Regions from separate parts of the Homo sapiens genome. Here region 2 is linked to region 1. Evidence: fine-mapped expression QTL. A gene starts in region 1. The other region holds a variant in brackets. All regions are shown on one strand. Distances are from middle to middle.

Region 1 (16,012 bases):
CTCTAGAAGATTCTATGTTGCATGGCCAGTGTCACTCTAAGGGCCAAGGCGACAGGGAGGCAGATCTGCTGCTGTGGCTCTTGTCTATATGGTCACCTTGCTGCCAGTAAGCTAATTTCATGAGAAACTTGATCTAACTCAAAAGTTGTGCGTGTGGTCTCTTCCCACAAATCTAGAGTCCACCTGCAACCCTGAACTGGGTAACATTGAACAAATTACTTACCTTTTGTTCTTTAATCTTAATTTTTGAAACTGTAATAAAATATATATAAATTCATCATAACTGTTTCAATTAGTACAGTTCAGTGGTATTAAGTACATTTGCATTGTGCTACCATCACCACTCTCCATCTGCAGAACCCTTTTTCATCTTGTAAAATTGAAACCCTGTACCCATTATACAGTAATTCTTCATCTCCTCTGCTACCATCATTTTACTTTCTGTTTTGATTAATCTGACTACTCTAGGTACCTTATATTAAGTGGAATCACACCGTACTTGTCCTTTTGTGACTGGCTTATTTCACTTAGCACCGTGCCCTCAAGGTTCATCCATGTTATAGGATGTGTTGAACTTTTTTCCTTTTTTAGGGCTGAACAATATCCCATTGCATGTATATACCACATTTTATGTATCAACCCATCCATTGATAGACACTTGGGTAGTTTCCACTTTTTCACTATTGTGAATAATGCTGCTATGAACATAGGTATACAAATATCTCTTTGAGACCCTACTTTCAATTCCTTGGATACACATCCAGAAGTAGAATTGCTGGATCACATGGTAATTTTGTCTTTAGTTTTTTGAGAATCCACCCTACTGTTTTCCATAGTGGTTGCACCATTTTACATTCACACTAATGGTGTACAAAAAGCTTCCACTTTCTCCACACCCTTGCCAACACTTACTACTTTCTGTTTTTCTGATAGTAGCACCCTACTGGATTTGAGGAGCTTTTTATTTGCATTTCCCTAAAATTGGTGATGTTCAACATCTTTTCACATACTCACTGGCCATCTGTATGTCTTCTTTGGAAAAATGTCTGTTTAAGTCCTTTGTCCATTTTAAAATTGAATTTTGTGTTGTTGTTGAGTTGTAGGAGTTCTTTTTATGTTCTAGATATCAATCTCTCATCAGATATATAATTTACAAATATTTTCCCCCATTCCATGGGTTGCCCTTTCACTCTGCTGACTGTATCCTTTGATAACTACCTAATTTTTTTCTCACCTGAAGTCTGGGCATCACAGCAGCTCTATTGGGATGATTAGAAGATAACATACAGAAAATACAGTGTCAAACAAAGTTCCTCTCTCTTTGTAGAGGAGAAAGTCCCTCCCACCATTACAGGAGTGGGATGAAGAGTAGGGGCAACTAGCAAGGATTCCACCAGTCAGTAGAGTTTGAGATCAATAGACTTAGGTTTGAAGATGACCTTTGCCACTTCCTAGAGAGACATTTTGTTCTCTGGGCCTGAATTTTTTACTGGAGGTGCCACCACAAATGGTGTTGTTAAGAACTGAGAATGGGTGTCGTTAAGGACTGAAAGTGCCAAGCACTGAGCAGCTAGCTCCTCTATCCATCTATTCATACACTCAACAAATACCCAGAGTGCTCACTGTGTGCCAGACAGTGTTAAGTGCTAAGGAAACAGACAAGAACTGCTATGCTTACAGGCCTTACATTCTATTGGAGGAACGGGAACAGACACAAAATGTATAGTCTGTTAGACGGCAGAAAGGGCTATGACGAAAAATAATGCAGGGAAAGGGAAGAGCAGAGTAGGCAAGTGGTCCTAGAAGCCCACTAAGGAGGAACTTGGGCAAAGGCTGAAGGAGTTGAGGGAGCAGGCCATACAGTCACCTGGGCAGAGGGTTTTACAGGAGGAAGAAGCAGGGAGTGCAAAGGTCCTGAGGTGGATGTGTGCCCGTGGTGCTCTGGATGCAGCAAGGAGGTCAGGGTAGCCAGAATAGAGGTGAGATCAGAGAGGTAACAGGAGACTGAAATGACCCCTCCAGGCCATTTGTAAAGACTTGGTTTTTACTCTGAGTGAGATGGGAAGCTATTAGAACCTGGCACAATAAAAGGTGGCAGTATTATTGAAATGTCTCAACTCTAAACTTGTTTGAAAACTCCACAATTATCTTTTTAAAAATTCAGGCAACTTAAAACACTTCTGCTTTTGGATGAAATCGTATCCACTTATGGCAGTGATGATATAATTGGAATTTCTGGGCTAGCACACTGTTACCAATGATACCAGAGCTGTGGCTCAGGAGTTTATTCATCCATTTATTCAGACTTGAGGATAAAAGACAAGAGTGACACATATAAGAAGCTCAAGGATAGTGGAGGAAGACAAATATACATAAGCACAAAAAGTCACTAAAGCACCATGACAGACAACTGTATCATGTGCAAAATGACCTCACAAAACAAGGGAGGTGAACTGAGCTTTCAGGTGTGTATGTTGGGTAGGGGACAGAGGGAAGTACCTCCTTTTGGCTGAAAGGACACTGCATGCAGAGGGAATAGCTTAAAGAAAGGCCCAGATGTTGAAATATGATGGCGGTTTCTGGAATATGCAGGTGGTTTAATAGGGCTGAAGAAGGGATGATGTTATAGCTAAAATCAGCATTGGTCTGATCATGGGAGACTTTGCAGGCTATGCTAAGAAAATATACTTTATCTGAGGGAAATGGAGAACATTTGGAGGGTTTTAAGGGTGACAGTAGCATGACTACATTTGCACTTTGCAAGAATAATTTTGACAGCAGTGTGGAGCATGCACTTGAGAGGTGTAAGGGGAGGGTGGAAGGAAAAGACAATTCAAATATGAGATAAGGGCCAGAGGCAACACAGTAGCAATTGGGAGAAAAAGGAGACTAAGAACAAATAGACATGTAGGTGACACAAAGTAAGAGCCCAATAAATAAGTTATATGTCAGGAGAGATCTAGAATAATTTTCCAGTTTCTAGTGACTATTTTGCACTACGTACACCATTTTGGAGGGGTAAGTAACCCCTCCCTTTGAAGAGGGATGCCGTGTTGAGTTTTTTTTTTTTTTTTTTTGAGACAGAGTATTGCTCTGTCGCCAGGCTGGAGTGCAGTGGCACAATCTCGGCTCACTGCAACCTCCGCCTCCTGGGTTCAAGCGATTCTCCTGCCTCAGCCTCCCGAGTAACTGGGACTACAGGTGCCCGCCACCACGCCCAGCTAATTTTTGTATTTTTAGTAGAGACGGGGTTTCACCATGTTGGCCAGGGATGGTCTCGATCTCCCGACCTCGTGATCCGCCGGCCTCGGCCTCCCAAAGTGCTGGGATTACAGGCGTGAGCCACCGTGCCCGGCCATGTTGAGTTTCTGATATGCATTTAGGCCATGTTGAGTTTTTGATATGCATTTAAGATCTCTGTGTGAAATTCAATTAAAGATGTACAGACAGCTGAACAAATGGGTCTGAAAATCAGGGAAATAAATTTGCGTTGGGGATTTAAATTTGAGACTATAAATCATGAAAGTGGTGAGATTGTCTAGGGACAATATTTACCATGAAGAAAACATTACTAGAATAGAATCTTGAAGAACATCAACATTTAAGGAGTAAAATGAGGTACAGACCTTGCTCACCAATGTGTCATTAACGCCTAGCTTGGTGCCTGGAAAAAACTGGATGCTCAATAAATGTTTGTGAGGTTATAGATCGATAGAGGAAGAGAGGGAGGTAGAAGTATTTGTCATAAAAATAGGAGAACTTGAAGACAAATAAGGTTCTGGAAGAAAGGAAAGTTTCAAGAGAGTGCATTGGAGAATGTCAAATGCTACCTTGATCAAAATGAAGACTAAAGAGAGTTCCCTTGATTTAACAACCAGACCGAGAATATAGCAGGGTCCTAGCAAAGAGAAGTTAACGCCTGAACTGACACTTGAAGGACAATCATTTTACAAACAAGAGGAAACTTACTACGTGCCTAATTAACCATGTCAGGTACACTATGGTTAATTCCACAAATGCTTGTTAGTTAACGAGGAGACTGGCAGATGATAACGCTGCAGACCAGGACCCTCCCCACCCTTATATTCCCCTACCTCAGCGCAAACTCTTTCCCCCAGCACCACCGGCCTCTTATCCAGGCAGTCCACGCCGGCCCAGGAACGTTCCCAGAACTACGGCTCCCAGCAGGACAAGCGCCAGACAAGCCTGGACTCAAGAGGATAGACTGGGCAAAAGCGCTTCTGGGAATCGTAGTTTAGGGCGCCGACCTCAAGATCCAGGCTGGGCACGCTACCCGACCAACTCCTTACTTGAGCTCTTCAGCCGAATACATCCCGAAGGAAATGCCCTGCAGCCGCCGCCAGGGCATGTTCTTGGAGATCAACATCCTCCAGGTCCGTTTTGAATTCCGACACCCCAAGAGACGTTCCACTCACCACCTGACTATTCTTAATTCAACCTCAAGCCCGGAGTCACCACGCGATTCAACGTGCGCTTGCGCGCGGAAGCGGTCGCAGGAACGACATTTACGTGGATGAGATCACTTCTACATGGGGGGGGAACAAATAGTTGTACGACTCTCTGCTCGCTCTTTTGTTTTGAAAACAATCAAAGATATATAAGACATCAAAATAATCATTTAGGAAAATTCCTCCGAGGCAAATCGGGTGTATAGAGCTTTTAGCTTCCGTGACGAAGTCTTTCAAACCATGAGCTTGCAACCTCCCATTTTATGATTGCTTTCGTCTTCTTCCGCTTCAGCCAATAGCGGAGCTGTTCCCTGCTCCCCGCCCACTGCGCCCCACCTTCCTGAAGGTCGAGGCACGCTTTCCCAACATGCTCTGCAGAGAAATCAAAGATGGCGGTTGTATCTGCTGTTCGCTGGCTGGGCCTCCGCAGCAGGCTTGGCCAGCCGCTGACGGGTCGGCGGGCGGGTTTGTGTGAACAGGCACGCAGCTGCAGGTAAGAGACGCTTAGGGTATCCGCGAAGAAGACCGCGGAGTCACCTTAGTCCTATGTTTCCCAGCTGGCTGTGGAAGTAGGCACGATGAAATGGTTTGCTCATGCGCGCCCTTAACGGTCGCGTGCCCTTAAGACCAGGTACGCGGAGGTGGCCCTTTGAAATAGGATTCGCAACGCATTTATTCATTAGAGAAATACTTATTGGTTGCTTGCAATATTCTGTAGTTAACACCATCCGCAAAGCTAGGACCCTGCTCTCATGAAGCTTGCGTTCCAGTGAGTGTGGCTATTAGCAACACTACCCCAAATTAAAAATTATCCGCCATTACTCATTTTAACCCAATCAGGAGGAGCGAGGAGAACGTACAAGATCTTCCCAAATAAAAGGCAGTCTCTGGTCGCCACCGTGGGGACTTTGGCTAAAGAAGTTATCAGGTTTTCGTAAAAGCAGAAAAGTCTAAAAGATCTGACTATGCCCTTTTGATCTGTGATAGTTATAGCTTGGAACATGTATGACCTATCTGTGTAATTTTTTTTTCACTCAGTACAAACAGTGGCATTGTGGGAATATGAGAGGCAGTAATTTGTAGTGAAAACTTGCTAAAAGCCTAATTTTAGGTTTAGTGTTTGCCATTCACTTAATTGGATGATAATAGACAGATTTCCTCATCTGCAGACTAGAGTTGGTAATAACCATCCGAAAAGTTTGTGAGGTATAAGTGGGGTATGTAATTTACAATATGTTTTTATATGTACTCTCCCTTAGTTCCCCTCAAGAAAGAGAAACCACTCCATCTGATACTGCAGAAACCTTTGTGCTGCCATTCAATGCCAGTCCTCCGTTTCCTGGTAGCCATCGTTAGCATTTTTCTACTCATTTTCTTTGCCTGAAGCAGAATCTCTTCCTCAGCATCCGTTCTCAAAATAACTGTGATCTCTGTTTTAAGGTCATGAGAAACAAATAGTGTGACTTGAAAGAGTTGATCTCAGAAACTTGAAAGAGTTGATCTCTTTCTGAAATGTCCTTAACGTAGAGGGGTATTCTTGTTTTAAATGATACCTGAAACCAGATACTACTGGAGGAAGTATCTGTCTGTGCAATCACATCTTGACAATTTTCTGAATGTTACTGATGCCATTTAGTAAGGGGAAACACAAGATAATACTAACCGTCACATTATCTGTGGTGTGTTGACTGTGTTTTTAGTGTGATCAGAACACTTAAACAGAACACTTAAAAACTCAGTCATGGGCCAATGATTCTATATTTTGGTTTAAAAAGGATTTCATATTGAACCTCTGAAAATAGAAAATATCAGCAATTCCAAGTCTAAATCAGGCCTTATGTATTTGGTACATTCTTGATTGTTGAAAGAAGTGGAATGAGAAGCCATGGGTCATCTTCCCTATGTTGTAATTGCTTTAAGTGAGGTAGTCCTTTCTGATCAGGGCAGTATCTGTATAGAAGCAAGAGCTCACTGAATTGTTCTTTTAAACATCATAGTGTTTTGGGTTCCTGAAGTTGAAAGTTCTTCATTTCAAACCAGATTGTTCAAGTGCTATTAAAAACTTTCCTCCCTCTCTGCCATTTATGTAATGAGATTGCTTGCTTCCAAAACTTTTGTCTAGCCGGGCATGGTGGCATATGCCTGTAGTCCTAGTTACTCAGGAGGCTGAAGCAGGAGGGTCACTTGAGCCCAGGAGTTCAAGGGTTCAGTGAGCTATAATTGCACTACTTCACTAAAGGCTAGGCAATGGAGCAAGACCCTGTCTCTAAAAAAAAAAAAAAAAAAGTTTTGACAGTCTTGTCCATATCTTGTATCCATTCCTTAATGATATTGAACATGTGTACAGACTGTCTTCTCAGCGTTCATTGACATGAGTTATCCAGTTTAATCCGTGATAATTGGAGAATTTGGGCTCAAAGTACACATAGGTGGAGGTGAGCTGGGTACTTCATTAATGACTATTAGATTTAAGGCTTTTGTTTTTTTGCAGATTTTATTCTGGTAGTGCAACCCTCTCAAAGGTTGAAGGAACTGATGTAACAGGTATATTTTAAAATATATTGAATTCTATTTTTATATCAACACGTTGGATTCCATTGTAGTACTAGGAAACTGATTCATGTTTTCTTTTTTACATTAGGGATTGAAGAAGTAGTAATTCCAAAAAAGAAAACTTGGTAAGTATTCTATCAGTGTTCATTCAGCAAATGGTTGAGTGCTTACTATGAGAGAAGTGTAAGGGTTAGGTAAGGAGACAGTGACAGGAAGAGCAATAGGAGAGCATTCTTGAAGAGAGTAGCTGAGCGGGGAGAAGCTAGGAGTTTAAAGGACAAAAAATGGAAAGGTGGAGAATAGTGAGTGAATGAGCAATGAGATTTACTTAAAAGAACAATTGAAAGAGATTTTGAATTAGTGTGGGTTACTATTTACGTGGTTAATAATACATGGTTATACATGAACATCATCATTAGAATAATTTTTTTCAAGGAAGTTCTCTCATATGATTCAAGAGCAGACAGTTACTGTCTTTATTATCTCTAATGAGGTAAAAATAAAGTAAATGGTGTGGACAGCAAAATTTAGCTTTTTTATTCACTGGATATATCCTTGAACAAATTGCCTCATCTCATTTATTCAACATTTGTTGAATATGCAGGAATTAAAACTTCACAAAAGTGCTTGTTACAGTGTAGTCCTATTGAACGCATTTAGTGGCCCCTCAAAAAGCTAGGTCTTAAAATTATGTGACCTAAAGACTCGGGTTCGCCAGGCGCGGTGGCTTACGCCTGTAATCCCAGCACTTTGGGAGGCCGAGGCGGGCGGATGATGAGGTCAGGAGATTGAGACCATCCTGGCTAACACGGTGAAACCCCGTCTCTACTAAAAATACAAAAAAATTAGCCGGATGTGGTGGGGGGTCGCCTGTAGTCCCAGCTACTCGGGAGGCTGAGGCAGGAGAATGGCGTGAACCCGGGAGACGGAGCTTGCAGTGAGCCGAGGTCGCGCCACTGCACTCCAGCCTGGGCGACAGAGCAAGACTCCATCTCAAAAAAAAAAAAAGACTTGGGTTCATTTAAAAAGACTTTTTTAAGAACTTTATTAATCTGAACTGTGTGATTATTTTAGGGAGGCCAGGGAGCCCAGTGATGTCAATGCATAGGTAACTGGGATCATAAAAGAAGTGCAAATTAAAACTTACCGTATTGGCAGAGAGAGGATTTGAAGAAATACGTTTGTTTATGGGACAGTAAATTGGAACAGCTCTTTGGAGGGAAATTTGGCAGAATCAGAATTGGAAATGTGCGTACCTTACTGGTTAGCCACTTTGGAGGAACATTTGCATATATACATGGACAAGACTGTTCTTTATTACTTGGGAATAGTAACAGGTTGAAACAGCCTGAATGCCCATTGAAAAGTGAATGGATAATTTTAAAAGGTTATCATACAATAACTTTTTACATTGAAAGGAATTAATTAGCTCTATATTTAATAACATGGATAGTGCAGCCAAACTTATGTAGACACATGCAGAATGACAGTGTGTATACGTTTTTTAGGGAGATGTTTATGTGTGAAAATACCTTTAAAAGTTCTGGAAATACAAATACCAAATTCATCGTGGAGAGGGGTCACAAGATGACACCAGACACTTTAGGTTAACGTGTAATGTTCTAGTTTATTTTTTTAAGATAATGTATGATACCTTTTAAAGTAACCCTTTAAAGAAAGAGAATTAGTGAGTAATCTGAATGTCATCATTTTTTCACTGCCATTTGTTCAATATGTTAGGAAAGTTTGCTAACTTGATAAGACTTAAATAGGGCAATAAAAGATCTGCTGAAGGAATGCTGACAGATGAGAGAATGTGTCGTTATCACACTTGCTGAAATTACATAAATGTGACTTCTAAACGTGGATAGAAAATTTAGTGGATATTATGTACATCAGGGAATTAGTTTTGATGAAATATAAAATTTCCTGTACTTTTGTTTTTCTCAGATGACTTATAGTCTTAAGAATGTTATGTTAAACTTTATTTAGAAAAATACTCTTGGTATAATTCCCTTTTGGAAAGGAAACACATTAAATCTAACATAGGAGCACAAATATATTTGAGATCAAATTATCTTGTCTGTCATTTATTCCAGTGAAGCCTTTTCTAATAGTTCAGTAAAGGTCTCTACTCAGAGGTGCAGTGGACAGCTGGCCTGCAATTCTTACCATAACGTTATATATGGTTGAGAGGTTCTAAACCAGGAGGTTGCATCAGAATTATCTGGGAATTCAGTAAGAGTGTGTGTGACAGTCCTCCATGGATCTTGGGAGGCTTTGATGCAATAGGTCCAGAGTGAAGCCTGTGGTTTATTCTCCTATAACTGAATCAAGAGCTACCAATTAGGATAGTAAAGGCAACAGTAGTCCCGAAAGCTGCAGTAAGAATCCATAGGAAAGTGGGTAGAGGAAGTAGGCCAGATAGTTTTATGAGGGCGGGATGGAAATCACTAGCCCTGGGTTATGGCATTATGCACCAGGCCAGAGAGGACAGGCAAAGAGAGGAACATGTACCAACTAGGGGAAAGAACCAGCAGTTTTCTTAATTTCTAATTTATTCTAGTGACCTTGTGACATAACCAGCTTCAGATGAGATCTGCACTATGTTATTGGCCAGTACACTGAGAGTAGAATCACTTGTTCGGTTTGTGGCTATGAAGAGCCCTGATGAGGATTAACTTGTGGTTCTTATTTTTAGGGATAAAGTAGCCGTTCTTCAGGCACTTGCATCCACAGTAAACAGGGTAAGTAGGATTTTGTGTTTTTTTTTAACCTAAAACTTGGCTAATAACACACTTTTTAACTCGGCTAATAACACATTTAATACTCATACCTCGTCATTACTCAGAATTAAACTGTTGTGCGTCTAGAAAGTTTCTTTAAAATTGTCTAGGCCGGGCGCGGTGGCTCACGCCTGTAATCCCAGCACTTTGGGAGGCCGAGGCAGGTGGATCACAAGGTCAGGAGATCGAGACCATCCTGGCTAACACAGTGAAACCCCGTCTCTACTGAAAATATAAAAAATTAGCCAGGCGTGGTGGCAGGCACCTGTAATCCCAGCTACTTGGGAGGCTGAGGCAGGAGAATGGCGTGAACCCAGGAGGCAGAGCTTGCAGTGAGGAGAGATCGCGCCACTGCACTCCAGCCTGGGCGAAAGAGCGAGACTCTGTCTCAAAAAAAAAAAAATTGTCTAATCCAGCTGAGCCAGGTGGCTCATGAATGTGATCCCAACACTTTTGGAGGCCAAAGTAGGAAGACCACTTGACATCAGGAGTTCAAAACCAGCTTGGGCAATGTAGCAAGACCCCCATCTGTTTTTTGTTTGTTTGTTTGTTTTGTTTTGTTTGAGACAGAGTTTTGCTCTTGTTGCCTTAGGCTGCAGTGCAATGGCGCGATCTCGGCTCACCGCAACCTCCACCTCCTGGGTTCAAGCAATTCTTCTGCCTCAGCCTCCTGAGTAGCTGGGATTACAGGCATGTGCCACCACGCCCAACTAATTTTGTATTTTAAGTAGAGACGGGGTTTCTCCATGTTGGTCAGGCTGGTCTCGAACTCCTGACCTCAGGTGATCCACTTGCCTTGGCCTCCCAAAGTGCTGGGATTACAGGTGTGAGCCACTGCGCCAAACTTTTTTTTTTTTTTTTTTTTAATTTATTTTTTGAGACGGAGTCTTGCTGTGTCGCCCAGGCTGAAGTGCAGTGGCACAGTCCCGGCTCACTGCAAGCTCTGCCTCCCAGGTTCATGCCATTCTCCTGTCTCAGCCTCCCGAGTAGCTGGGACTACAGGCGCCCGCCGCCACGCCTGGCTATTTTTTTGTATTTTTAGTAGAGACGGGGTTTCGCTGTGCTCACCAGGATGGTCTCCATCTCCTGACCTCCTGATCCACCCGCCTTGGCCTCCCAAAGTGCTGGGATTACAGATGTGAGCCACAGTGCCCGGCCTTTTTTTTTTTTTTTTAAGAATAAAATTATTGGCCAGGAGCAGTGGCTCACATCTGTAATCCCATCACTAATCCCATCACTTTGGGAGACCGAGGGAGGCTGATTGCTTGAGGTCAGGAGTTCGATACCAGCATGGTGAACATGGTGAAACCCTGTCTCTACCAAAACAACAAAAACAAAAATTACGAGGCATGGTGGCACCTGTAGTCCTACCTATTCAGGAGGCTGAGGCAAGAGAATCTCTTGAACCTGGGAGGCAGAAGTTGCAGTGAGCCAAGGTCCTGCCACTGCATTCCAGCCTGGGTGAGTTAGTGAGACTCTGTCTCAAAAAAAAAAAAAAAAAAAAAAATTTAAAATAAAATTATCAAATCCCTTTATTTGGCAAAGGAGGAAGCTAAGGTTTTGAAAGTGGCCAGTGGCTGGTTAGGATGTTAAAACCTTAATTAAAGGCTTAATTTCACGCCTTTTATCTCGAAATGCAGTGTTTTTCTACCATACCAGTGATCTTTAATCCCTGGAAGGGCTTGTTGAAATGTATGTTCTTAGGGGACGATTTGGCTGTAGTATACCAACTTGGAGAAATAATGTACCTGTCATGCTGACAATCATGTAATGATTAATAATCTGGGTCCTGGAGCCTACTGGTTTGTTTTAATAGCCAAGCAACTAGCTTTATGATCTTAGGGAAGTTACTTTACCTCTTGATACTTCTGTTTCCTGACTTATAAATTGGGGGTTAATTATAGCACCAAACCTCAAGGTTGCAGTGGAATTATTAACAAATGAATTAAGTATACGTAAGATTTAGGATAGAGTCTGGGACAAAGGAAATTCTTGGTACATTGTATTTTGTTACTGCTACTACTGTATTGTTGATTTCATTGACATGAAATTTTCTCTGTTGGCAACTCAAGAGTAGAGTTTGTAGTCTGGTAGATACACTGAAACTTTGGTAAATGCATCAGAAATGGAACTTTCTGCTTGGTTGTATTTTTTATTAACCAAAAACTTTTAATTTCGTCTGTGGGGAAAAGTCTAAAATAATTAAGTCTTTTTTTCTGCCACAGTATCTGTATGGATATTGATCCTCCTTAAGTCGATTATTACAAGTACGCAGAATTGTTCTTCTATTGTGGATATTAAACTACATCTAAAAATGGAACTACTAGGCTGGACATAGTGGCTCATGCCTGTAATCCCAGCAGTTTGGGAGGTCAAGGCGGGTGGATCCTGTGAGCTCGGGACTTTGAGATCAGTCTGGGCAACATGGTGAAACCCTGTCTCTACAAAAAAACACAAAAATTAGCTGAGCGTGGTAGTATGCGCCTGTAGTCCCAGCTACTTGGGAGGCTGAGGTGAGGCTCACTTGATCCTGGGAGGTGGAGGTGGAGGTTGCGGTGAGCCAGGATCGCACCACTGTACTCCACAGAGTGAGACCCTGTCCCCCCCGCCACACACAAAAAAATTAAATATAAAATAAAGATGGAGCTACTAAAGATAGTGTTGGGTCTAATGTGCACTGGTGTACTCTACCAGTTTCTGAAAAAGGACTTTACTACATCTCCCTACTTGCAAAGCATTGAGATTTTCAGTAGCTCACTTATCCATAAATAGGCACCTGAAATGTAAACATAGAAATGGACCTCCGAGATATTCTCAACATTTCAATGAGAATGGCCCAGGGCCACTTTCAAATCAAAGAAGTTATAGAATTGTGTGTAGAATTGTGACTTATCTGGCCCTTAAAATCCAAGAGTTATTCGTTTATCCATTCATTCAGCAACAATATTTTGTGCCCTTATGATGCTTATCAAGCACTGTGCTGGATATAGAATTAGACACAGATATTGTGTAGTTCTAGAGGGGAAGACTGAGGTAGCACTGAGAAGGGGTTGTATCGCCAAGACTGAGAAAGGAATTCTTTTTTTTCTTTCTTTTTTTTTTTTTAAAGAGACGGAGTCTCCCTCTGTCACCCAGGCTGGAGTGCAGTGGCGCAATCTCAGCTCACTGCAAGCTCTGCCTCCTGGGCTCACGCCATTCTCCTGCCTCAGCCTCCTGAGTAGCTGGGACTACAGGCGCCCCCACCCCCACGCCCGGCTAATTTTTGTATTTTTAGTAGAGACGGAGTTTCACTGTGTTAGCCAGGATGGGGGTAAAGGAATTCTAAGCAGACATTTTAGAAAAGAGAGCTATGTGGAGAATGGGAAAGCTTTCCACTTGAGAGTGTGATAAAGAGCTTAGCATATCCAAAACCAAACCCCATTCCCTCCAAACATTCCTCACATATTTCTTTGCCATCTCATTAATGGCAACTCCATTCTTATAGCTGCTCAGGCCAAAATCCTGGGAATTGTTAGCAAAGCCTTTGTTTATCCCTTCAAAAGATACGTGTGTGTGAGGTCTCCGTGACCACTCCCAGGCTAAGAGTTATGACAGCAAGAAGATACAAAGCAAAGTCAGCAAAGAGAAAAGGCTCATTGGATAAAGACCAAAAGAAATCAGTCACAAGCTTCCAAAAGACCTCTCCAGAAGATTCAACACAGGACATGCTTAATTCCTCCATCAGTGACTTGTGACAACACATGCAAAGTGTCTACCAAAGCTCATTAGAGACCCAGTGCCCAGAGTTTTTAGGGGAGGCTGGCCATGTAGACCACCCACTGGCTGGCATATATTATACCAAGTTTCCATACTCCCAGAAGGGAAGCAGGTGTTTGGCACAAAACACGTTGTACAAACAGGTTAGGCACAGTGAACCATTCTTAGCAGTTCTAGGAATGGTGAGAACCCTTCCAATATCCAGGTTCCCAGATGGCAGCCAAGGGCCAGCCTTGGACGCAGACCTTCCTAAGGATAATGGTTTCAGGTCTGTTAACTCTTTTCTGCAAAATATCAAAATTTTAGATGCCTGATATCACTACCAGTCACCTTGGTTATTGTCGTCTTACAAGTCTGGATTAATTGCAGCAGTCTCTGTCGTCTCCCACTGCACCTCCCTGCACACTGCTCTCAGTTCAGCAGCTGTAGTGACCCTGGATCATATCACTCTTAAGAATTCAACATTGGCTTTCCATTAGTATAATTCAAATAAAAACTGAAGTTCACAACAGGGCTGCTAAGGTGAGGCTCAAGGGAAAGGGGTTTTTGAAAGGGGTAGCAGAAAGCTAGGTCCAAAATAAAACACTGCCTCCAGGTTCCAGGTATGAGCAGCTTTCCGTTGAGAGCTGCAGGGAAGCTTCTGTGCCCCCTCCCTGAGGAGTCCAGGTCAGTAAAACAGCATTAAGGATATAGGATAAGTTTTTGCTTTGGAATAAAGGCCCAAGTAAGGCACTCAGACACAGAAGAGAATAAAGAAAGCAATTCTGGGGCATTTCTCAGTGGGGCCCCTGGTGGTATTGGAGAGTTGATTATGCTCAGGTTTAGGGAGCAATTTTAATGGGTAACAGGACGTGGGAGAAGGTTCTGTTGTTCATTCCTCAGAGGGCACGGTGATATCTTCCATTTGGAGGAGGGACTCTTGGTGAAGTTGAGCGTGGGTGGATAGTGACCTTGCTTTGGAGGAAATCCTATTCTGGGATTCTGCTGTTAGGACTAGTTAATTCAGATGATTCTTACCTAGAGTTTAAAACAGTCCCCAGTGGTAGCAAACTTAAATATTAAAATCAGCCATGGGGAGGGAGGCTTAAGCCATTGCTTGCCTTGCATAATTAAAGGCAAGTCTTGTAGAGCTGAGAGTACAGTGCAGGTGTTTGTCTTTTGTCTTTTTTCTCTATATATACATGTATATATGCCCACACACGTTTGCGCATTTAGGTTACATACATAATTACAACTTACGGAATTTTTGTTTATCAAAACTCACAAGGTCCTCTTAAAAATTTAGCTAGAAAGACTTGTGGGCTGGATACAGTGGCTCACGTCTATAATCCTAGCCCTTTGTAAGGCAGAAGTGAGAGAACTGCTTGAGGCCAGGAGTTTGAGACCAGCTTGGGTGACACAGCAAGACACCCTCTCTGCAAAAAATTTTGTGAAATGGCCAGCTGTGGTGGCACACACCTGTAGCCTAGGCTACTTGGGAGGCTGAGGCAGGAGAATCCCTTGAGTCCAGGAGCTAAAAGTTACAGTGAGCTGTCTTCAAAATAAATATAGAAATTGTATTATGTCTTTTCCACAGGATACCACAGCTGTGCCTTATGTGTTTCAAGATGATCCTTACCTTATGCCAGCATCATCTTTGGAATCTGTGAGTATTTTCATATAATTTTCTAGTGTTTTATCTCTCTGGTTTGCGTACAACAGTACATAAATAATTTAGTTGTAATAACCTGGGAAAGGTTTACAAATGCTGAGAAATTGATAGACTATGTGAATCCTTTACTACTTTCTTCAAAAAGATGTACATATCGTCAATGGGGAAAGGATTTTTGGTTTTGGTTTCTAATACTTAGGGCTTTTTCACACTGGAGTGACCCACTCAGTTTAAATGGCTTGCTTTTTATATATTTCAAGCTGTGTATAAGATGCTAACTGAAATTATATCACAGTAGAAAAGGTGGGATAGTCTATAATTTCTAATTGGGATTCTGCGTGTTGTTGCATTTGTTTTTTTTTGTGAGGGGGGAGAAATTCTTGCTGAGAGTGTAACTATAATCTTGCTTGAGTTTAAATTACATGTATTTAAATCTTTTTCTTTATATAGCGTTCATTTTTACTGGCAAAGAAATCCGGGGAGAATGTGGCCAAGTTTATTATTAATTCATACCCCAAATATTTTCAGAAGGACATAGCTGAACCTCATATACCGGTAAGGAGAGGTAGTTACATTATTTACATAATACTATTTTAAATGTAAATTAAACCAGGCTTTCATGGCTAATATTTCAGTAGCTATTTGAATACCCTCAATATTTGGATGATAAGCCTTTTAAAGTGTGGAGTTAGCTTTGATCACAAGACTAACTTTAAAATTCTTTCTGTATTTATTTGCTCTTCATCTTAATATTTTCCCCATTTGATTTTTGTGACACCATGCTCTTAGGTCTTTAA
Region 2 (17,517 bases), 300 kb before region 1:
TCCTGCTTCTCCGGCTGCTCCTTCCAGGCCCCCTTTGCCTGTTGTCACACCCCAGGGCTCAGTCCTCGGGACTCCCCACTCACTCAGGGCCACGCCCTTCATAGGCTGCTGACTTCCAATTCCTGTCTGTATCCCAGAGACGAATAGGAATAGATATCGCTCTGTCTATCACAATAGATATTCCTATCTGCATCACCCAGAGCGAAGCTGAATCCTTGCCTTCAAGGCCCCGCACCACCTGCCCTGGCACCTCCCTGACCTCACCTTCACTGCTGTCGTCTGTGTGGTTGACACACCAAACCCAGCCACTCTTTGCATTAGGCCTTCGCATCGGCTGTTCCCCCTGCCTGGAATGCTCTTTCCCCAGTATCCGTTTGGCTCGTTCCCTCATTATCTTCAGTCCTCTGGTTGAATAGCACCTCCTTAGCAAGCCCTTCCGTGATGGCTCGATCTTATTTATTTGTTTGTTTGTTTGTTTGTTTTTTGAGACAGAATCTCACTCTGTCGCCCAGGCTGGAGTGCACTGGCGAGATCTTGGATCACTGCAAACTCTGCCTCCCAGGTTCAAGCGATTCTTCTGCCTCAGCGTCTGAGTAGCTGGGATTACAGGTGTGTGCCATCACATCTGGCTAATTTTTGTATTTTTAGTAAAGACGGGGTTCCACCATGTTGGCCAGGCTGGTCTCGAACTCCTGACCTCAAGCGATCTGCCCACTTCGGCCTCCCAAATTGCTGGGATTACAGGTGTGAGCCACCGCGCCCAGCCAATGGCTCTATTTTAAATCGCAATACTCCCCTACTTCCCCTAGCACTCTCTCCCCTGCTTTATTTTCTCCATAGTACTCATCACTCTCTGCCACGCTATGTCAGTTTGAAAACACTATCACCTCCCTCTAGACCGTAAAGTTCATGAGAGCGGGGGTTTTTGTTTTGCTGACCACTGCATCCCTAGTGTCTAAACAGTGCCCCCTTGGGGCTTTTTGGAACTAGGAATGCTGTCCTCAGTCTCCAGTAGCTGATGAACAAATATTTGTTGCACAAATGGATGAATGCTTCATTAAATGTACTTGTACATGTATCTTTATGTCCTGGTGGTTTGACTTCTGTAGACTAGATCATGGAAGTGTGGTTATTCTGTCCAGTGTATGTATAGAGTATTTTTAATTTTAATAAACAACTCTAGATTACTTTCCCAAGAGGTTGAAGCAATTCATGCCCATTTCTCTGCCTGTGCTGGACGTTATCACACTTGAGTTCTTGCCAGTCTTCTGGGGAAGCAGGGAAGGCATCTCATTGCTTTAATTTTCATTTTCCTGCCTAATAGAGAAGAACATTGTTCATATTTATTGACCACTTGAATTTCTGTTTCTGTGAATTGTCTTGTTTATTATAGTCTTTGCCTATTTTTGTTTTTACAGGGGAGGTGGGTGGGGGAGGACTGACGTTTTCTAACATGTGTGTAAGACGGAATCTGCATTTTTTTTTTAAAGCATCCCAGGTAATTGTGATACTTATGGCCATTCCCAGCGCTATCGCTTAGTATGAGGATCCTCCTGGTCCGCTACTGCCTGGCAGGCTCTGGGGTCCTCTATGGGTTTTAGAATGAAAGGTTTTAAGGTTTTTTTTCATTGCTGGTACTCTGTACTTTCTACAACGATCTTGTGTTACTTTTTTAAAAAGGATATTAAAAAACAATCATAGGAAAACCCTTGTACTGTAATACCAAGTGGAAAAGCATTTACAGTTAGGATGTACTTTCTGATGAGAATGACATAAAAAGGCTCTCTGTATGCAGAAAACCCTAGCAGTGAATGGCCAGAATGAAAACATAGGATTGTGGGTAATATTCCTTACAATGGAAGTTTTCCTTACGATGGAAGGCAGACAAGTGGGGGAAGAAGAGGTGAGGGTGAACCCCTAGTGGAAAAAGAGTGCCTGCTGGAATGGTAGCACTTGGGCTAAAATACCCTCCTTTTGTGGCTTGGCAGACATCACTAATTAATCACTTCAGCAGTTCCTCCTAAGCTCCAGCTTGGTCTTAGAATCTTTCTCAGCCCCATAGTCCAGAGAGCTACTGTCACAGATCAGAGCTGGCAGGCGACATTAAACCCAGTCACCGTCCTTGCCTGAGCAGGGGACAGCGCAGTCATACCTGGCAGCCAACTCTCTTGCTGGGGCAGCAACAGGCTCCCTGGCAGCCCTCGTGGCTATGTTGGGGCTGCAATCCAGTTGGCTGCTCCTACCTATCTGTGCCCTGGGGGTGGGGGAGGCACCTGGGGTCTTTTCAACCTGCACTGGCTCCCATCTCTTATATAGAGCATAGCTTCCTGGACTCTCTTCTCCTCCCAGCCCTGGGGGCTTGTTGGAAGTGGGAACGTTGTCCTCAGCCTGATGCTTGGCCCTGATGCAAAGTCCACATGTTTTTTCATCATTGACTTTCAGGGTCAACATGTGGACCCTGGACCCTGGACCCTGGAACATCCCCTCCAACACCACACCTTGGCCACTCTCACCATTTGGGCGACTCTGCAGCCTCTGACCTCTGCTTTCATGATTTTTGGCGTAACCCCTCTCCACTCACATGGTCCCAGCTGTGACTTCGTGCCCTGATGCTGTGTTCACTGGCACATCCTGACTGTCTAACCAGGCCCCTGGCCCCGCCCCACCTGCCTGCCCTGCACTTGGCATGACTCAGAGCTGACAGGTTCACCAGCCGGACTCACTGCACAGCGCCAGGAATTCCTCATCAGTCTTCTTCCTCTAGACCAGCTTGGGGTGGGGGCCGTGGGGGGTTGATTAGAAAGAGTAGGAAGAAATATTTTTATAGCTTTTTCTGGTTTTTTTTTTTTGAGAAACAGTAAATGATATAGAAAGATAACATAGAAATATATGAGGAAATCACCAATAATCTAATCACCTGGAGATAACCACAGTGACTGTGTTGGTGAACATCCTTCCAGGCACCTCTCTGCCTCCACACTCACTGACATATACATATGCACATTGTCATAAATGGCATCGTGCTCTATTCAACCTGCATTTTTCACTCAACTATATGTCATGAGCATTTTCAAGAATGTCAATGACGAAAAAACATGTTTTCTTCTCCTAGAATGTAAATTATATTCCACAGGATTCTTTTTTTTTCCTCCTAGCATATTTGTGTTTTTGTTTCCTCTGAGGCAGAAATGTTATTAATTTCCCATTTCTCTCCCATAGTAATAGACCACCAATTTCTAGTTGTGTGGACAGCCACTACAATGAAGACAATGTATCTCAGCTTCCCATGGGGCTCTGTATGGCTGTGGGACTGAGTTCTAGTCAACGGGTGCAAGCAGAAGAGGTATGTGCAACACTGCCTGGATGTGCCCTGTGCTAGGTAGTTTTATATATGGCCATCAATTATTTGACAGTCCTTCTTTCATTTAGGTGGAGGCTTAATTCCCTTCCTTTAAGCATAGCCTGCACTTTGTGACTTGCTTCTAATGCATAGAACGTGGTAGAAGCAATGAACACCTGAGGTTGAACTGAAGAGGCAGTTGGCTTCCTTCTTGCTCTCTGTCTCTTGCATCATCCACTCTGGGGAAAACCAGCTGCCATGTCATGAGGACAATGTAGCAGCCCTATGGAGAGAAGACCCATGTGGCAAAGAACCGAGGCTTCCTGCCAACAGTCACGTAAAAGAGCCATTTTGAAAGCAAGTCCTTAACCCCCAAACCAGCCTTCAGGTGACTGTGGTGCTGGATGACATCTTGACTATAAACTCTGAATTCCTGACCCACAGAAACTGAGATAATAAGTGTTTATTGTTTTAAACAACCAAGTTTTGGGGTAATTGTTTTGCAACAATAGACAACTGATACATGCCCTTAAAAGGATGGGCGGGTCTTCCCTTCCCCTTTACCCTCTCTCTGGATGGAAGGTGGATGTGCAGTGTGCCATCTGGGATCTTGCAGATAAGGGCAACATGCTAGGGATGGAGGAGCAACAACATAGAGGGGGTCTGGGCCCTTGATGGCTTCATAGGACAGGGTCAGCATAACAACTCAGACTTCTAAGTGAGAGGAACATGAATGTCTATATTAATTAAGCCAGAGCATCCCAACCAATGCTGGGCCTTCCTGGAGTGCTGTCAATGGGTTGCAGGTGCATGAAGCTACTGATCCCCTCTGTCTCAGGGCCAGTTGCTTCTGCATGTAAGCAGCCTGCTATGGACTGAATGTTTGTGTCTCTCCAAAATTCATATGTTGAAACCTAATTCCCAATGTGATGATTTTCGGAGGTGACTAGGTCATGAGAGTGGAACTTTTATGAATGGGATTAGTGCCCTTATAAGGGACTAGCAAGACCAGAGATTTTTCCCTTTCCACCATATGAGGACACAGCAAAAAGGCACTATCCATGAACTAAAAGCAGGCCTTCACCAGACACTGCTCTGCCAGTGTCTTGATCTTGGACTTCCCAGTCTCCAGAACTGTGAGAAATAAATTTCTGTTTATAAGCTATCCAATTTACAGTATTTTGTTTTAGCAGTCTGAAAGAAATAAGACACAGCCTTATTCTTTTACCCCCGTGAGCTACACAATTATTACAATTTTCTCTGTGTGCTGTGATGGGAATAATGTTTGGGAAGCTTTGGGTCTCTGTCATGACAGCCAAATTTTATCCCAACAAATACATTCTCCAAAGTGAGATGTGGCTTAGTACTTTTAACATATGCTGCTCTCCTTAATCAGGCTATGGGACACTCGTGCTCTGAGGGGTATGTCAGGTCTTGGCAGGTGAGGTGGCAGGTACTACAAGTGGTCGGGCTTTCTCTAGGTCCCAGAGGCCCCAGGTGTTTGTGATCACTCCCCTTGCCTGTGCAGGAGACTGATTCTGCAAACAACAAGAGCGAACCCTCCTCCCGGCCTTGGGGAACCACTCACAGTTTGCTTCTGACTCCAGCTCTCTTCCCCCTGAGCTGTGTCTGTATCCCAACCTCCCTTCTCTTCTCAGGCTCTGTCCGCTCAGGAACACAGATGGTAACAGTGCAGAGGTGGACACTGCTTAATAACATCATTTCTCCCTGAGGACGGTCATGGGTCACACACCCAAATCAAACCAAGCCTCCTGTGGACAGAATTCTATTAGGAGGTATGGGACTGGGGCTTTCCTGATGTCGCCCACTCAGAAGAGCAGAATCTCTATTTTAATGGCTACATGTTATGCACGGAATATTTGTGTCCCACCTAATTCATATGTTGACATTCTAATCCTGATATGATGGTACTCAGAGGTGGGGCTGTTCAGAGGTGATGAGGTCATGAGGGTGGAGCCCTCATGAACGGGATTAGTGCCCTTGTCATAGGAGCCCTGGGGACCTCTCACACCCTCTTCCACTGTGTGAGCACACCACTCAAGAAGAGGGCAGCTTGTAACCCAGGAGAGGCCTCAGCAGTACCTGACCATGCTGGCACCCTGAGCTCAGCCTTCCAGACTCCAGAACTTTGAGAAATACACTTCTGTTGTTTAGAGGCCACACAGCCTATGGTACCATGTCACAGCAGCTCAAATGGACTGAGATGGTGAGGTTCGCCAGACCCAGGCAATCTGCTGGATGTGTCCTCCCCTTTGCTTAAACTCAGGGTTATATGAAGTAAACAGAAGGATCCGTTTTAGCATGAGTGACATCACACTGTAACATGAGAACCATACACATTTTGTGATATTGCTTTTGCAGACTTAGATCTACAAGACCATAAAGATTCCACAGTGGTGGCTGGGCACAGTAGCTCACGTCTGTAATCCCAGCACTTTGGGAGGTCGAGGTGGGCAGATCGCTTGAGGTCAGGAGCTTGAGACCAGCCTGGGCAACCTGGTGAAACCCCGTCTCTACTGAAAATACAAAAATTAGCCAGGCATGGTGGTGCATGCCTGTAATCCCAGCTACTTGGGGGACTGAGGCAAGAGAATGGCTTGAAACCTGGAAGGGAGAGGTTGCAGTGAGCTGAGATTGTGCCACTGCACTCTAGCCTGGGTGACACACTGAGACTCCATCGCAAAAAAAAAAAAAAAAAAAAAAAAAAAAAAAAAAAAAAAAAAGATTACACAGTGGCTTCTAGTCTCACTGCCCAGTGGCTCCTCATTAATAACTGATAGGAACTCCAAACAGCATGGCCAGGAGACTGCATCAGCTTGGACCTGGTGGATCCCTCTTCTGACAGGCCCTGCTGCTCCCTTCAGCTCTCCACACTGCTCCATGCCCACAACTGCTAGTCTTGGGATTGAGTGTTTATTTCAGGGCTCTTATTTCCAAACTAGTTCAGTATCTGCTGAGGTGATTGTTCAAATTTTGCTTTGAGCATTAAGTTAGTGAATTTTTTTCTTCTTTTTTTTTTGGAGGGAACAATTTTTTTATTGTGGTAAAATATATATAACATAAAATTTAACATTTTAAGCATTTTTGGGTTTATAATTCAGTGGAATTAAGTACTTTCACAGTGTTGTACAACCATCACTACTATCCATCTCCAGAACTTTTCATCACCCCAAATTGAAACTCAGAAGGTATCAAACAATAATTCCCCATTTCCCTTCTGTAACCCATGGCAGCTCTATTCTACCTCTGGTGTCTATGACTTTGCCTATTCTAGATATCTCATCTAAGTGGAATCATACAATCTTTGTCTTTCTGTGACTGGCTCACTTAGCATAATGTCTTCAAGACTCGCCCATGCTGTAGTATGGGTCAGAGTTTCCTTCCTCTTAATGGCTGAGCACGTAAGTTTTTAATCCGTGGATTTCACCAAAGGTTGATGTTTCTAATGCATTCGGCAAAATTCCTGCAGACACTTACTAAATGTGGAGTTGACTTCTCTTTTTCCTGCATCATTCTCTTCATTCTCTATACAGTGACTGTGTGACATCTGGTAGTGCGTGGTTAGGTGTTTCATTCATTCTCTCGAATGAGAGGAGGTCCTCCCAGGTTGGAGGTCTATGCTAGCAGCAGGTGCTCTGTGGAGCGGTGCCAACAGTGACACCGAGAGACGCCCCTCTCTGGTGACAGCTCCGGAGCACTGCCTGTTACTCTACTCTTATATTCTGGAAGCCTCATCAACATCATGCTTTGGTATTTTTCAGTGTGGCTACACATTTCTTACTTCATTTAATCCAAATGCCCTGATGGAGGCTATGTGTCAGTAACCCTTTTAACTCTGAGGAAACTGAGGCCCAGGGAGGTGATGGCTCTTGCCTCCCCAGGAGGTCAGTGGCAAGTGGGAGGCTGAAGCTTAGGGCACCCAAGTCCAGGACTGTTTTCTGCTTACCCCTCAGGGAAGGTGGCAGAGGCTTCAGGTTCCCTCCTTTTTGCACTGGCTTTTCTCCTCCTACCTTGATGGGCATGGATACACTGATAGGGGTTGGAGAAGGTGGGGAGATAGGGGAGAATAAGCACCAACCTTTCAATTCCTCAGCTTGTGCAAACCTTGTTTCTTTTGAACTGTCTTCAGGGCTGAATCTGGCACTCTCAAAAGGCAAGGGTAGGAAGGTGGCAAGAGGGGCTGTAACCACTTCCTGGGGACTGGGGCTAAAACCACGGGGCTGGAATCTTCCCCTCCCCCTGCAGGAGGATATCAGGAACTACAGCCATTTGAGAATAAATGATTCTTGCATATGATTTAAAAATTATGAAATAAAGGAAATGAGGTGAAAAATCTCTTCACTCTTGTCACCAGCAGCCATTTTCTTCCTTACAGGCATCAATGTTTTCTACTTTTGCATATCTTTCCTGAGGACTGTTATGTATGCATATATACACAAGTACATACATACACGTATACGTATGTACGTATGGGTATGTGTGTGTATATATATTCTTGTTTCATTTTCTCCCACAGATAGTAAGTATATTATGCATATTGCCCTGTGCTTTATTCTTCCAGCACTTTCACATAATATATAATAGTAATAGCACTGAACATTTATTAAGTGCTTACTATGTTCTGGGGTTCTGGGTACTGCTCTAAGAACTTGGTATGGGTCAATAGTCTTAATACATTTCATCCTCACAACAACCCCATGAGGTAGCATCATTTTTTCAATCTATACATAGTAAAAAAAAAACCCATGCAAGCTAAAACAACACTGAGATACTATTTTTCATCCGTCATGCTGTTAAAGATCAAAAAGCTCACTAACACACGGTGTGGAAGAGGGTGTGGAGACATTGATACTCCATAGATTTTTGGTAAGCAATTCAGCAAAAGCTATTACCATTATAAAGACAAATAACTTTGATTCAGCAATTCCACTTCTAGGAATTTTTCCTGCAGATACACTTTGCAGATGCTGAATGAGTGGGGCACATATTATTCATGCACCATTGCATAATAGCAAAAGACTGGGAAAAAGTTAAACATGCATCAGTAGGGACTGGCTACATATGGTATA[T/C]TAACATCCATTTATTGAAATATTAGGCTGTGGGTTTTAAAAAAATGAGTAAATTATTGATGCACAGAGGTGGTGTTAGTCTGTTCTTACACTGCTAATAAAGACATACCAGAGACTGGGTAATTTGTAAAGAAAAAGAGATTTAATGGACTCACAGTTTCACATGGCTGAGGAGGCCTCACAGTCATGGCGGAAGGCAAAGCAGGGCAAAGCCACTTCCTACATGGTGGCAGGCAAGACAGTGTGTGCAGAGGAACTGCCCTTTTATAAAACCATCAGTTCTCATGAGACTTATTCACTATCACAAGAGCAGCATGGGAAAAACTCGCCCCCATGATTCAATTACTTCCCACTAGGTCCCTCCCACAACACGTGGGGATTATGGGAGCTACAATTCAAGATGAGATTTGGGTGGGCACATAGCCAAACCATATCAGACTGGCTAAATACGACATATGATATGATATATTAACATCCATTTATTGAAATATTAGGCTGTGATTTTTTTTTAATGAGTAAGTTATTCATGCACAGCGGTGGGATGCTCTCCAAGATGGAGAGGCAGTGCAACATCATGGTTAAGAATCCAACTTGAGCCAGGCTTCCTGGGTTTTAAGTCTGGCTTTGCTGCTTATCAACTGTGCAAAATTGGACTGTTACTCTACCTCTCTGCATCTCTGGTTTCCTCATCTGAAAAGTGGGGCTTGTAATAATAACACATTGTAATACCTCCAGCTAACCCTCAGACAAGTAGGAAATAAACGGTCATGGTCATATGCCACTGGAATTTTTTAAAAATATTTTTTACACAGCATGAATGCAGTGATAACTAACTGATACAAGTGCACAGTAGTTGCTCAATAAGTATTGCTTAATAAGGAACTGAGCAAGTCCTTTCTTTATAGTGGGAAACTTCACAGGTTACCTGAAGAGCAACTCCATGTAGAGCCCAAAGAGGAAGCTCAAGGTTAATATTCAACATACAACCAAAGCACTGGGGTTTTATTTATTCAGCAGGCTGGTTTTTTTTTTTTTTTTTTTGAGTACTGGCTGTGCTAGAAGCTGACACACATACAAATAGAGTAAGGATTGACCCCTGTCCTCAGAGCACACACTCTCTGGAAGGACAAGATTTATAAACAATTAATTATAAGTATCGTGGCACTTGCTGTAACAAAGGTATGCAGAAAGTGTGCAAAGGAGGTAACAAGCATTTCAGCCTGTGGTGGATGCAGGGTGAAGGAGGTGAAGTCATGGGAGTTGGGGTGCCCAGTGAGCGGTAAAGGGATAGAAAGCTGCAAAGGTCAGCCAAATCCAGCATGGGAAGGGCCTTGAAAGCTTGGGAAGGAATTTGAGTGATACAATTTTTTGGCAGAGGGGTGCCATGATTTTGGAAAGATCACTTTGGTGGCAATGTGGAAGGTGCAAAAGGCGGCTATTGCAGGGCCCAGGATGTGGGGTTGCTTACATCAGACCTCCTGCTACAAGGACAGAATTGATCGGGGACAATTTCTAGGGACAGGATTGATCTGGGGGGTATGTGGCCCCAGATGAGGAAAGAGAAGTCCAGGAGGTGGTAAAATAAGTCCTTTCTTCTAACTCCCCTGCTAGGTAGGCACTGTACCAGTTAGGAAGGCATTTGGCTGCAGGTAACAGGAAACCTGGTTCTAGAAGTTTAATCACACAGGGGTGCCTTTTTCTCATAATAAGAAATCAGTAAATGGTGGTTGCTGACTTTGCTGTGGTAACTCGACAACTCTGAGATTCTTATGGCCTCTCCTCATGGTCTTAATGTGGTTGGTACAACTCTAAGTATCGTGTCTGTGTTTAAAAGAAAACCAAGAGGCAGAAAGGTGGAAAGAGAGGGCCATACCAGCTGCACCCTTTTGTCAGGAAACCAGTTTTACTTGACATTTGCACCCCACCCCCTGCCAGCTTCCACCTATATCTTATGGCCCTATCCTGGGTGCAAGGGGGCTGGGGAACTGAGGAACAGGCTTGTCATGCTCAGTGGAGCCTCTTTGTGGGACCAGGCCCATTTCCATTCCAAATGAATTGGGTTTGTTACAAGGAAGAAGGGGAAATAGATATTGATAGGCAGAAGCATGTCCCCAAACATGGCCAGAGATGGTGTATCTTCTGCCATAGGAACTCCTGGTGCATGGCACGAATTCAGACATCCTGCCTTCTGGACCTGACACTATGAAGCCCCACTGTGTTTCCCCACTCCCATTCCAGGCCTCTGCCTCAGTGGGTCCCAGTTCATCCCTGTCCATCCCAGAGGGGCCCTCTGAAGTAGATCCAGGCCCTGGGTGGGGGCAGTGGCTAGTGCTAAGCAGAGTGGGACGAGAGCACCATCACTGAGTTCCCTACTGACCGTTTCTGAGCTGAGCTGGCACAGAGGTCCTGGGAACAGAGGCTGTCTACAGCCTGGTATTCTGGTAGCACAGAAGGCTCCTGGAAAGCCATCTAACCCATCTTGCTGGTCTCTTCTTGTGGCACATGATAGTAAGCCATGAGGACTCTTGAGGACAGATGGGAAGGTCATATGAAAACTCCTAGCAAAGTGCATTTACCGTGGAACGAGGAGGACCTGGATTCTTCCAAAATCCAACTTGGTGATAAGCTGAGTCATGCGTGGTAACAAATGCCCCGACAAGTATAATTGCTTAAACACGAAGATGTATTTCTTGTTCACTCTGAATGTCCATCGTCAGTTCACAGGGGCTCTGCTCCATGTCTCTCCACTCTGGGATCCAGGCTGATGGAGCAGCCACCATTTCTAACTTGCTGCTTGCTATGAGAGAGGGAAAGAAGAGATCTGGAGGGTTTACTGTGGCATTTCCTTACTATTTATTTATTTATTTATTTTTTGAGACAGTCTCTTATTCACTCAATGGCCCAGGTTGGAGTGCAGTGACGTGATCTCAGCTCGCTGCAACATCTGTCTCTCATGTTCAAGAGATTCTCCTGCCTCAGCTTACAGAGTAGCTGGGATTATAGGCATGCACCACCATGCCCAGCTAATTTTTGTATTTTTAGTAGAAACGGGGTTTCATCATGTTGGCAGGCTGGTCTCAAACTCCTGGCCTCAAGTGATCCGCCCACCTCAGCCTCCCAAATTGTTGGGATCACAGGGGTGAGCCACTGTGTCCAGCCTCACTATGACATTTAAATGCCCTGATTTGGGAGAAACTCACATAATTTCTGCTCACAACAAATTGGCCAGGGCCAGTTTCATGGCCCTGCCCTACCACAGAGGGGCCCTGAGTGTGATCTTACCACGGGCCTGGAAGACAGAGAGTAGGGAATGCATTCATGACAACCACAGTGACCTTGGGAAAGTTGTCTTAGTTCTCTGGGCCTCCTTTTTTTCACCTGAAAGTAGTGTTCTTAAAGCAAAGACAGAGTGGTTAAAATGGCTCTTAGAATCCCTCCAGCCACTGGAGATAGCCATTGGCTAAAAATGAACCTCAAATTAACCTCATACCCCATACAAAAATTAACTCAAAATGGATCACAAACGTAAATGGACTTTACAAAACTATAAAACTTGAAAAAGCATAAGGGCAAATCTTTGGAATCTGGGGCTGGACAAAGGGTTTTTATTCCTGATACCAAAAGCATGATCCACAAAAGAAAATTGGTTCAACATGGATCATGAATTGATAACTTGGGCCTCATTAAAAAATCCTATATGAAAAACTTCTGCTCTGCAACAGATCCTGTTAACAGGGTCAAAGACAAATTACACAAAGCTACACATATAATAAAATTGCAAAGAGCAACACACACCCAGACACATACACACATACATGAGTGCACATATATCTGGTGAAATCCGGATACATTCTAAGGACTATACCAAGTTTCCTGGTTTTGATATGGTCCTATGGTAATTTATCAAGACATTGGCAGAGTCTGGGTGAAGGGTGCATGGAACCTTCCTGTACATTTCCTTGCACCTTTCTATGGATCTGTAATTACTACAAAATGAGACCAAAAGAATCCTGGCTGGGCACGGTGGCTCACACCTGTAATCCCAGCACTTTGGGAGGCAGAGGCGGATGGATCACTTGAGCTCAGGAGTTCGAGACCAGCCTGGACAACATAGTGAGTCTTCTTTTCTGCAAAAAATACAAAAATTAGCTGAGCATAGTGGTGTGCGCCTGTCCCAGCTCATCGGGAGGCTGAAGTGGGAGGATTGCTTGAGCCTGGGAACTTGAGGCTACAGTGAGCCATAATTGTGCCACTGCACTCTAACCTAGACAACAGACTGAGACCATGTCTCAAAAAAAAAAAAAAATCCCTTCAGCCACCCATAAAGAAATCTGCTTTGGGGATCATAAGCATTCGTATATTTAAACACCTAAGTCACTCTTAGTCCTGCAACATGTTCCCGATGGGCTGAGGGGCCAGCAGATCCCATCCCCCAGAGTGTCATTGCATGGAATACATGAAGAACCACCTGAATCACTGCCACTGACATTTCTCTGGCTCTGTCACTTTTATCGTTTACACTGGTCCACAGCTTTTTATCAGAAACCCTTGGGGCCAGGAAGTTTCAAAGATGTGTATTTTTTTTTAAAGGGGAGTTAGAAAAGTTGTCTAGGGTTGTGGTGTTTATTAGGTAACTCTCCCTCCCCCAACAGGATGTGGGGCAGACCCTGTCATCAAACACATTTAATGTAATTAATATTCACAAATGTAAGGTATAAATACTCCCAAGGAGTGAGATAAATACAGACTAAAATTATCTTGTGTCACTTCAAGTCACCAAATGAGTTCTGTTCAGGTCAGATTTAGCCCTAGACATTACACACGTGCTCACACGCATGCACGCACGGCTGGTTTTCCGAGCTTTTGGATCTGGGAATTGCAGAGCAGAGGCTGTGCAGCATGGCCGAATGTGCCTACCGTGACTCCTCGGGTGCCAGGCCCAGGCCTTGTCTGACCCATGGGTTGTGTGGACAAGAGGCCACTGCGCCTCAGGGTGCCAGGGATCCCAGGCTCCTGAGAGTGAGGGGCTCAGAGCTTCCCCAGCTGTCACCTTCACACCTGGCCACTTGCCCCTAGATCTGCTGGACCCTGAAACACACTCCTCCCGTTACTGGCTGGTTGTGGGTGTCGTGGTGTCACAGCCCCTGGAGAAAATCCCCCAACCCCCACCAACCTTTGTCCCCTCCAGAGAGCATGGGCACCTTATCTGCAGCCCAGGTGGCTCCTAATCTTCTTAGACTCCAAGGTGCTGGGTCTGGCAGGAGCCAGAGACGGAGCCCAGGCCCGCCCTGGTTTTACAGATGAGGGAACTGAGACCCAGAGAGAGTGAGTGAATTACCTAGACTCACACAGCAGGTCAGTCTGGGCACTGTACTGGATGATTCCTGGCAGGGAGAGGGGTGCTGGAGGCATGTTTAAAAATCAGGGACTGGAAGAGCCTCTCAGCCTCAGAGAAGACATCTGAAGCAGCCTCTGAGCCACACGGAGCACCCCCCGCCCCCACCCCAATGAAGTGGGAGAGGTTCCCAGGCGCAGGGGGAGGAAAGGGGTCATGCAACCACGTCCTTGCCTCCCGCCACGAGTGTACCCCGAGTCACCAGGTTTGCTCAGCCGCAGCAGGGCCAGCCCCGGCGGCTGGAAGGCGGCGGCTGGGCCTGGACGTGGGTGTGGGCGCCCCCGGCCTCCCCCCGCCCCCGCAGGCGCCCCCCACCCCCCTAGCAGGCGCCCCGGTCCCTGTGTGGGCTGCTTTGACTCAGCGCCGGGAGCCGAGCTTAGGCAAACCACGCCGCACTGGACGCCATTCAAGCTTTTACAGGCCCTCAAATTGGGGCTGGAGCCGGAGAGGAAATACTAAAATCCTGTGTACACAACTTCTGTCTGGGCGCGCCGGGGCTCTGGGAAAATCAGGCGCGGCGAGGGACACATTTGGACTGTTTAAGGGCTCCTTTTCCCTGCTCTGCTTTTAGCAGGCATCACGATGTGTCGCCTAAAACCAAGATTCCTGGGTGTGGGCGCAGGAGGGTCTGCGGAGTGTGTGAGCTGAGGCTCGGCGGGAGGAACTAAGCTTTTCTCCTGCCCCCACGTGCCAGGCACACATGCGCCCAAAGTTGGGTTCAGAAATCCCTGTGGTCCATAAACCACACACTCTGCATGGCCCAGGCCCCTTCCCCTGCAGAAAGATGCAGCTGTCGGATGCTGGATCCTCAGAGCCTGGGCTTGGGAGTTAGGCAGGCCTGGGTGGGAACCCGGCTCCCCACTTGGCAGCACTATGACTGTACTGTGGGCAAGGGCCTCTATTTCCTCATCTGTAAAATGGGCGTGATCATGGTAAGTTACCTTGGAGGTTAAAGACATGATGTAGGTGGGGAACTAGCTCAGAGCCTGGCACATAGTAGGTGCTCCCTAAGTGGTAGCTGTTAGTATTTATATGGATTAATAGTGATAGCATCATGTTGAGCCTGGCACATGCTAAGTGCTGCCTACAAATCAATTCATTTAATCCTCACAGCAGCCCCATGGGATAATACTGTAACCCCATTTTAAGGGCAGAAACTAGGTCAATTCATTGACCTACCCAAGGTCACAAAGCTGGTGACTGGCCGGCCAGTCAACTGAACAAATGAACAGTTGAACCCAGGCCATCATTTTCATAGTGCAGATGATTTGCCACACTCTGAACTGTAACAGAGGAGGAGCTGGTGGTGGCCAGAGCTGCTGATGAGCTGTGTGTCCATGGCATCCTCAGCCTGGCACCGAGCCCCCCACACCTGGGCCTCATCCCACTGTCCCAGTTCCAGCTCTGCCAAGTGCCCTCAAGCACTTCCCACCTTGGCCCACCAAGAGCCCGAGCTGCCCCCTCCTACCTCTCGGCCTTGGCTCAGCCTCTCCCCCACCCCCAAGCTCGCTGGCTGCCTGCCTGTGCATCAGGCCACTCACTGGCCACCCCTCCGGTGGGGCTGGCTTCTCCTCTGAGCTGCAACACTTCCACCCCCAACCAGTGCCTTCAGCCTCCCTTCCTTCGACTTGGGCCACGCTGGTCTGTGATATGTTTGTTTCCCTCATTCTGGTCACTCGTCAAAACCCTACAGATCTGAGGCCAGACGTAGTGGCTCATGCCTGTAATCCCAGCACTTTGGGAGGCTGAGGAGGGTGGATCACCTGAGGTCAGGAGTTCGAGACCATCATGGCCAACATGGTGAAACCCCGTCTCTACTAAAAATACAAAAATTAGCCAGGCATGGTGGCATGCGCCGGTAGTCCCAGCTACTCAGGAGGCTGAAGCATGAGAATTGCTTGAACTGGGAGGCGGAGGTTGCAGTGAGCCGAGGTCATGCCATTGCACTCCAGCCTGGGCAACAGAGCAAGCCTCCATCTCAAAAAACAAAAACAAAAAATCCCCCAAACCCTACAGGTCTGGTCTAGTCTCTTGTGCAGAGCAGGGTCTCCCATTTGTGGAAACGAATTTTCATTGGTGGTAAATATTGGGTGATTGGTGACATTGTCCTCACTGGTGACTTGTATGAAGGAAAAAGAGAAGCCCCAGACAGTTTGTATAAGGAGGCAGGAGACAATGTGGGCATCACCCCGTGTTCCTGACGTCTGCTGCCAAGCACGTGGGGGTGTAACTCCTCTGCCCACCCTTCCCCCTACAACCCCCTTAATTGTTCTGTCATCAGGGCCTCCCAGGAGCCCATGCTGTCTCAGGTAATGGCAGAAACCTCAGGTAACGGCAGGTGTGTGAGCTCCTGGCTGGGCTTCCCTATACCAGCAGCCTGCAAAGGGTTTCCATTCTGGGATCAGAGGGGCTCCAGGCCTGCCCATGAGCCACATGATGCCAACCTCAGTGTGGGCCATGCCAGGCCTGAGACCACATAGTGGATCTCCCAGACCTCTGCTGGGCAGCTAGAGCTGCCATCCCACTTCCCCCAAACAGCCCAAACCCCCAGTGCCCACACCCAAGAGGCACGACAGTGTCATGGAAATAACATGGCCCTTGGAATCCAGAGATCTGGGTGTGGGTCCTGATACTGCAGTTCCATGAGGTCTTGGACAAATCACTTAACATTCCTGTGAGCCTCAGTTCCCCCATGGTGGTAATCATGTATATTTTACTTTGGGATTGAGAGACAGGAGAGGTATGAGAGCACCTGGAACACTGTGGGAGCTGAAGTGTTGGTTTAAGTGGGAGTCACAGTTGTGGTGGGGAGCTAGACTTGAGGGGTGACAGGATGACCCAGTGAGCTGGCCCAGCAGTAAGAAGGGAGGAATTGATGATGGAAAGGCTGGCGTCCCCTGGTCTGGCCTCTGCAGGACTCGTAGTTGAGTCTCCCCACCCCTTAGAGTGGGGGTATTCCTGGCCCCAACCACTTCACACCTTTGACGCTTGGGGGAGGGATGCATATACAGGTGGAGGCTGCTGGGAGTCTGGGGTGCCATGTGGGATACCCCAGACATCTGGCAGAGCTGCAGTGGTGCCCTATGGGTGCAGACTGGTTTGGGACCACACGTGAGCCACCCCAGGGGCTTCCAGAAGGGCGCAGTGCCAAGGCAGCTGAGGATCACGAGTAAGGAGCCTAAGGGGGCCAGAGAACTTGGGGGCGTGTTACTTGTGTCTAAAAATTGGCAGATCGAGGGTCAGGGCATCTGGACTGCTCCAGTGAATAAGGGAGAATGCACACTGGCCACCATCAGCTGCTGGGTACAGCCGGGAGAGCTGGTGGACTTGGAACAGGAACAGTCTGCATGGCGTGACAGCGCCCTCTGCTGTCCAGGCTGGGCTGGCATCGATGGTACAGGAGGAGGGTGATCCTCACACCTGGCATGAGCAGAACCTCCACTTCAAGCAGCCAGGGCTCAGGAGCAGGAGGGACCCCGGTAGATGGGAAACTCATTCCCATTTTACAAATGAGAAGACAGGCTAGGAGGAGTGTAGAAAGTTGCTCAGGGTCCCGTAGCTATTAAATGGCAGAGCCAGACTCATCCTGCAATGCCCTTCCTTCTACCCCAGACTGAATCATTTTATGCAAAATATAACAGGACTCAGGGATGCTGGAAACAGTACCCTTCTTTATTCTATTAAAATCAAAT

What was found. PIP is the estimated chance that this variant, and not a neighbour inherited with it, causes the effect.
Region 2: its variant is fine-mapped to the expression of PTCD3 in whole blood (INTERVAL, PIP 0.99).

Annotation. Positions count from the first base shown.
Region 1 is chr2:86,101,390-86,117,401 of GRCh38, forward strand. It overlaps PTCD3 (pentatricopeptide repeat domain 3), which reads left to right and starts at 4,846. Exons shown (of 24, transcript NM_017952.6): 1 at 4,846-4,962; 2 at 6,961-7,013; 3 at 7,111-7,147; 4 at 9,724-9,769; 5 at 15,141-15,209; 6 at 15,666-15,770. The coding sequence starts at 4,859. POLR1A (RNA polymerase I subunit A) reads right to left here and starts at 4,497. Exons shown (of 34, transcript NM_015425.6): 1 at 4,311-4,497. The coding sequence starts at 4,387. RefSeq lists enhancers at 4,017-4,106, 4,307-4,516, 4,897-5,156.
Region 2 is chr2:85,797,199-85,814,715 of GRCh38, forward strand. No RefSeq gene overlaps it. Among named protein-coding and RNA genes, the nearest start is that of MIR6071, 22 kb to the left of the region's middle. RefSeq lists an enhancer at 1-237 and a silencer at 7,341-7,538. The variant T/C (reference allele first, on the strand shown) is at 8,431.